2 linked regions of the Homo sapiens genome follow. The protein of the gene in region 2 interacts with the protein of the main gene of each other region in a pairwise test. Each region holds a gene or a part of one and is shown on either strand. Other genes may lie near its edges.

The links.
Region 1: the proteins of PPP3CB (region 2) and FBXL17 interact in a two-hybrid assay, tested with the Homo sapiens proteins (one large-scale study listed by BioGRID).

Annotation. Positions count from the first base shown.
Region 1 is NC_000005.10:108,372,099-108,375,598, forward strand, and holds part of FBXL17 (F-box/LRR-repeat protein 17), read right to left. Parts: intron 1-3,500. UniProt on the Homo sapiens protein: Substrate-recognition component of the SCF(FBXL17) E3 ubiquitin ligase complex, a key component of a quality control pathway required to ensure functional dimerization of BTB domain-containing proteins (dimerization quality control, DQC).
Region 2 is NC_000010.11:73,486,025-73,489,524, reverse strand, and holds part of PPP3CB (serine/threonine-protein phosphatase 2B catalytic subunit beta isoform), read left to right. Parts: intron 1-3,500. UniProt on the Homo sapiens protein: Calcium-dependent, calmodulin-stimulated protein phosphatase which plays an essential role in the transduction of intracellular Ca(2+)-mediated signals.

The DNA of each region.
Region 1 (3,500 bases), on a different chromosome or scaffold from region 2:
TCTCATATAATCCTGTCCAAGTGCCACCAAATGAAGCTTGTTGTGTGTTACCACTTCTTATAATCATATCTCTTTCTTGAGAAACATCAAAATCCCTTGAACCTCTACAAGAAGAAAGAATCAGCAAACCTAAAGATAGGTAAATTAAAATTACTGAGTCTGTGGACTGAAGGAAAATGAACATACATGTGGAACCCCACCAAACATACTAATATACATATAATTGGAGGCACAGAAGGAAAAGAGAGTGAAAGAGGCCTAAATATTTGAAGAAATAATGGCTAAAACTTTCCAAATCTGATGAAAGGCATGAATCTAGCTCATAAACTCAATGAATTCCAAGCAGGATAAATGCAAAAGGATTCATATCAAGATGCATCATAATCAAATTGTTGAAAGACAAAAACCGAGAGAACCCTGAAAGCAGCAAGAAAAATGCAACTCGTGAAAAGGACACTCAATACAATCAACAACTGATTTTTCACTGGAAACCATGGAGACCAGAAGGCAGTGGGATAACATATTCAAAATGCTGAAAGGAAACTGTCAACCAAGAATCCTCTATCTGGTAAAACAACCCTTTAAAAATAAAGGCAAAATTAAGATATTTCCAGATAAACAAAAACTGAGGAAGTTTGTCACTGGTAAACTTCCCCTAAAAGAAATACTATAAAGAGTCCATCAGGCTGAAATGTAAGGGGATCAGACAGTGGCTTAAAATCACATATGAACTAAAGGATACCAGTAATTGTTGGTATTTACATAGGTAAATATAAAAGTGCATATTACTGTGTCTTTGGTTTGCAATGCCTCCTCTTTGCTATATGATTTAAAAGACTACATAAAACAGTAATTATGAATCTATATTGATTGGCACAAAATTCATAAAGCTGTAACTTGTGACAATAACAACAAATACAGGAGCAAAGTTTTTATATACCACTGAAACTAAACTGGTATTAATTCAAACTAAATTGTTATAATATATAGTGTTAATTATAACCCCCAGGGTAAATACTAAGAAATACACACATAATTATTTACTATATTTTATTTATATATATAATTCTCATATATACATATTCTCACATTACATAAATATAACATATCTAAATATATTATATTAATATAAATATAATATATATCTAAATATATTAATATAAATATAATATATATCTAAATATATTAATATAAATATAATATATATCTAAATATATTAAATTTTTATTAATATATATCTAAATATAATATATCTAAATATATATTAATATAAATATATATCTAAATATATTAATATATTTAGATATGTTATATTTATTTATATAATGTGAGAATTATATGTATATATGAGAAGGGGATCAAAATGGTACACTAGAAAATATCTGACACAAAGAACAGCATCAGAGGAATTGACAAACAAAAAATATATAAGACATAGAGAAAACAAATAATAAAATAGTAAATGTATTTCCTTATCACTAATTACACTAAATGTAAATGGGCTAAACTTTCCAGTTAAGACACATAAGGCCAGGGCCAGGCACAGTGGTTCACACCTGCAATCCCAGCACTTTTGGGAGGCTGTGTTGAGTGGATCACTTGAGCCCAGGAGTTCAAGACCAGCCTGGGCAACATGGCAAGACCCTGTCTCCACAAAAAAAATGACAAAATTAGCCAGCCATAGTGGTATGCACCTATGGTCTCAGCTACATGGGAGGCTGAGGTTGGAGAATAGCTTGAGCCCAGGAGGTCGAGGCTGCAGTGAGTTGTGATCGTGCCACTGCATTCCAGCCTGGACAACAGACTGAGACCCTGTCTCAAAAAGAAAGACACAATGAATAACAGGATAAAATGTAAAAACACAATCCAATTATATACTGTTTACAAGAGACTCAATTTAGATCCAAAAATATACACAGATTGAGAGTAAAAGCATGGAACAATACATATAGCAAAAACTGACAGAATTGAAAGGAAAAAAACCAAAAAGAGTTCCGCATTAATGCTTGGAGACTACAACGTACAACTTTCAATAATGGATAGAACAACCAGACAAGAGATGAACAAGTAAACTGAACACTTGAACAAGACTTAAACATGGCCTATCAGATATCTCTAGAACACTACACAAAATAGAATACACATTCTTCTGAAGTGCATAAAAACATTCTCAAAGACCAAAGTCTAAAATACTACACTACAAGTCAAGTCTCAACAAATTTGAAAATATTAAGCTCATACAAAGTATCTTTTCCAATGACAATGAAAGGAAATTAGACATCAGTAACAGAGGCCAGGAACAGCAGCTCAGGCCTATAATTCCAGCATTTTGGGAGGCCGAGGGAGGCAGATCACTTGAGCCCAGGGGTTTAAGACCAGCCTGGGCAACATGGCAAAACTCCCATCTCTACCAAAAAATACAAAAATTAGCCGGGCGTGGTGGCATGTGCACCTTTAATCCAAGGTACTAGAGAGGCTGAGGTGGGAGGATTGCTTGAGCCCAGAAGGCAGAAGTTGCAGTGAGCCATGATCACACCACTGCACTCCAGCCTGGGTGATACAGTGAGACTCTGTTTCAAAAAATGAAAGAAAAGAGAAGAGGAGAAGGGAGGTGAGGAAAGAGGAGGGGAAATCACTAACAGGAGGAAATCTGGAAATTTCACAAATACATGAAAATTTAACAATCAACAAGTAAGAAGAACTCATAAAGAAAACTAGAAAATAATTTGAAATTAATGAAAACAAACACATATAGCAAAATCTATGGGATACAGAAACAAGTAACTACATTTAAAAAGAAGAAAGATCTTGAATTGGCAACCTAAACTTCTACCTCAAGAAACTATAAAAAGAAAACTCAATACAAACTAAGCAGAAACAAGGGGGAAAAAATACAGCTAATACAAATGAAATATAGACTAGAAAAATAATAGATGATCAACAAAACCAAAAGTTTATTCTTTAAAATGATGAGGCCGAGCACAATGGTTGACACCTATAATCCCAGCACTTTGGGAAGCCAAAGTGGGAGGACTGCTTGAAGCCAGGAGTTTGAGACCAGCCTGGAAAACATAGCAAGACCCTGTCTCTACAAAAATTATTTAAGAAATTAACCAGGCATGCGCCAGCATGCCTGTGCACCCAGCTACTCAGGAGGCTGACAAGAGGGAAAGTCACTTGAGCCCAGGAGTTTAAGGCTGCACTTCCATTTACATAGCTATAAGCTATGATCACACCACTGCACTCAAGCCTGGGTGACAGAGACCCTGCACACACACACACACACACACACACACAAAATTGGCTAGACTAAGAATAAAGAGAGAAGACTCAAATTTTAAAATCATGTATAAAAATGGGAACATTAATATCAACCTTACAAAAAGTACACAATTATAAGAGAATACTATAATTGTATGCTACCAAATTGATGAAATAGATGACAAATTCCTAGAATATAAACTATAAAAACTGACTCAAAGGAAATAGAAAATCTGAGT
Region 2 (3,500 bases):
TTGGAGAATTAATAGAGACCGTGCATATAAAGTAGGTACCACAGTTCCTGGCCTGGCACATGGTAAGTACTCAACCAATGGTAACCATCACCATTATTATTATTATTATTATTATTGAAGGTTTTAAAGTAGAATAGTGACCCAGTATCTTGTTTTTTGATGGCTAATTCTGGCCATATTGTGTGCAACAAATTATTGGAGGGCAAGAAGCTTAAAGCAGGTTGTCTAATTAGAAGATTAATGGAGTAGTCCAAGTGAGGGATGACCAAGGCATGAAAAACTAGATACGACACAAATTCCTACTAATATTAGAAGGTAAGTATATTGGATGAGTGATTGAGTATGGAAGTGAAATAGGTGAGCAACAGTTTTTTAGGAAACAATAATCAGAATAATTTTGCTTTAGGGCTAGATTAAATTGGGCAATTGTAGTTAGATGCAAAGATTGGAATGATATGTAAAAGACTGAGAATGGTTAAATTGAGAAGAACCTTGAAAATAAGATCCAAAGTTTTCTTTTTCTTTATTCTTTAGTCATTAAGAAACTACCCCAAGTTTTTGAGTAGGTTAATTTACTACTTTGTTCAGTCAAAGAGGAAGAAGAGATTTTTCTAGTAAATGATAAGAACTTGAACTAGTATTGCAACAGTGGAGATTTAAGAAAATTGAATTTGAAGAATCAATAGGACTTAGAGTTCAGAAAGAGAACAATGACATTAAGTGTGAGTGATAGAGAATGGTGATACCTTAACAGGTGTAAGCCAGGAAGGGGAGCCAATTTTGAGGGAAAGGTATATTTAAAAACCACCACAAATTAAAAGAGACCCAATGGATACCTTGAAATTTTGAAGACAATGCTGTTGGATTTATTGAATCTTTCCTTAAAGCATGTGGCCAATCCATACTTCTACTCCTGGCAAGCAAATGGTTATATCATTCTTCATGATGAGGCTTTTTTTTTTTTTTTTTTTTAACCCTCAAGACAGGATCTTGCTCTGTCACCCAGGCTGTAGTGCAGCGCCATGATCATAGCTCACTGCAGGTTCAAACTTCTGGGCTCAAGCGATCCCCCAACTCAGCCTCCCAAGTAGCTGGGACTACAGGCACACACCACCATGCCTGGCTAATTTTGTTTATTTTTTATGGAGACAGAGGTCTCACTATGTTGCCCAGATTGGTCTCAAATTCCTGGGCTCCAGTGACTGTCCTGCCTTGGCCTCCCAAAGTGCTGCAGTTACAGGTGTGAGCCACCACGCCCAGCCATGATCAGCCTTTTGATGTCTCCTTTTGTCAAAAGAAAATTGTCCTTGTGTTGGTATAAAGACATATGCTACAGGAGCAGCATTCTGAAGACTTCAATTTCAACTATGGCTCTACTTCTTACTAGTGAAACCCCTGGAGAAGCAACTTAATGTCTCTGAACCTGTTATCTATCATTTGTGAAATGGGAGATAAAACTTGCCTGACCCTAACCCCAGCACTTTGGGAGGTGGAGGCGGGCGGATCACTTGAGGTCATATGTTCGAGACCAGCCTGGCCAACATGGTGAAACCCCGTCTCTATTAAAAATATACTAATTAGCCGGGTGTGATGGTGGGCGCCTGTAATCCCAGCTACTCGAGAGGCTGAGGTAGGGAGAATCGCTTGAACCTGGGAGGCAGGGGTTGCCATGAGCTGAGATCTCACCATTGCACTCCAACTGGGGCAACAGAGCGAGACTCTGTGGAAAAAAAAAAAACAAAAACTTGCCTGACCAAACTCAAAGGATGTCCCTGGGAATCATGTAGGATTATGTATGTGAAAGTACTTGGTCAACTATGAATAAAACACTATAAATATATTGTCATTGCTACATAAATTAGTGTCGTTAAACAAGTATTTTGGAAACTATAATCATTAATTCTGTAAACATTTCTTAATACCTATGTTTTTCCTGTTTGTTTTTTTTTTTTTTTTTTTTGGTTTTGGTTTTTTTTTGAGATGGAGTCTCACTCTGTTGCCCTGGCTGGAGTACAGTGGCATGATCTCGGCTCACTGCAACCTCTGCCTCCCAGGTTCAAGCAACTCTCCTGCCTCAGCCTCCCAAGTAGCTGGGATTATAGGCATCTGCCACCACGCCCCGCTAATTTTTGTATTTTTAGTAGAGACGGGATTTCGCCATGTTGGCCAGGCTGTTCTCAAACTCCTGACCTCAAGCGATATACCCACCTTGACCTCCCAAAGTACTGGGATTACAGGCATGAGCCACTGCACCTGGCCAGTTCTTAAGTTTTAGATAGGTTTTGATAATGGTGGAACTTAGAATGGATAAGACTTGTGGGCCAGAAACTTGAGCCTATGATGACTAGTTTTCTTTTGAGAGAAAGTCTCACTCTCGCCCAGGCGGGAGTACAGTGGCCCAATCCCGGCTTACTACAACCTCTGCTTCCAAGGTTCAAGCAATTCTCGTGCCTCAGCCTCCCCAGTAGTTAGGATTATAGGAGCCCGACACCATGCCCAGCTAATTTTTGTATTTTTAGTACAGATGGGTTTCACCATGTTGGCCAGGCTGGTCTGAAACTCCTGACCTCAGGTAATCCACCCGCCTTGGCCTCCCAAAATGCTAGGATTACAGATTTAAGCCACGGCACCCAGCCTATGATTAGTTTAATAGATAGCAGGGACAAGGGTAAACTAGCCAGAAGGCATGAATCTCAAAGGAGGAGGCATTTTTTTTCCCTTAGTGGAGAGATGATGTTGGAAGTGCTAATGCGGAGCTAAGAGAATGCTGAAGCCTCCACTGAGATTAGTGGAATGCGGAAAAATGAGCACCATCCACTTTGAAAAAAGAATTTGATAAGTGTTGTCCTTCAGGAGACCCAAGATGTAATTAAACTAGAGAGATGAAGACAGTATTCTGTGTAGAGCTAAAGAAGAGAGAGGCCAAGCGCGGTGGCTCACGCCTGTAATCCCAGCACTTTGGGAGGCTGAGGTGGGTGGATCACCTGAGGTCAGGAGTTCAAGACCAGCCTGACCAACATGGAGAAACCCAGTCTCTACTAAAAATACAAAATTAGCCAGGCGTGGTGGTGCATGCCTGTAATCCCAGCTACTTGGGAGGCTGAGGCAGGAGAATCACTTGAACCTGGGAGGCAGACGTTGCGGTGAGCTGAGATTGCACCATCGCACGCCAGCCTGGGCAACAAGAGCAAAACTCCGTCTCAGAAGAAAAAAAAAAAAAAAAAAAAAACCAGTCTGGCCAACATAGTGAAACCCCATCTCTACTAAAACTACAAAAAATTGGCTGGGCGTGGTGGCTCACGCCTGTAATCCCAGCACTTTGGAAGGCCGAGGCAGGCGGATCACGAGGTTAAGGGTTCGAGTCCAGCCTGGCCAACATGGTGAAACCCCGTCTCTACTAAAAATACAAAGATTAGCCGGGCATGGTGGTGCACGCCTGTAATCCCAGCTGCTCAGGAGGCTGAGGCAGGAGAATCGCTTGAACCTGGGAGGCAGAGGTT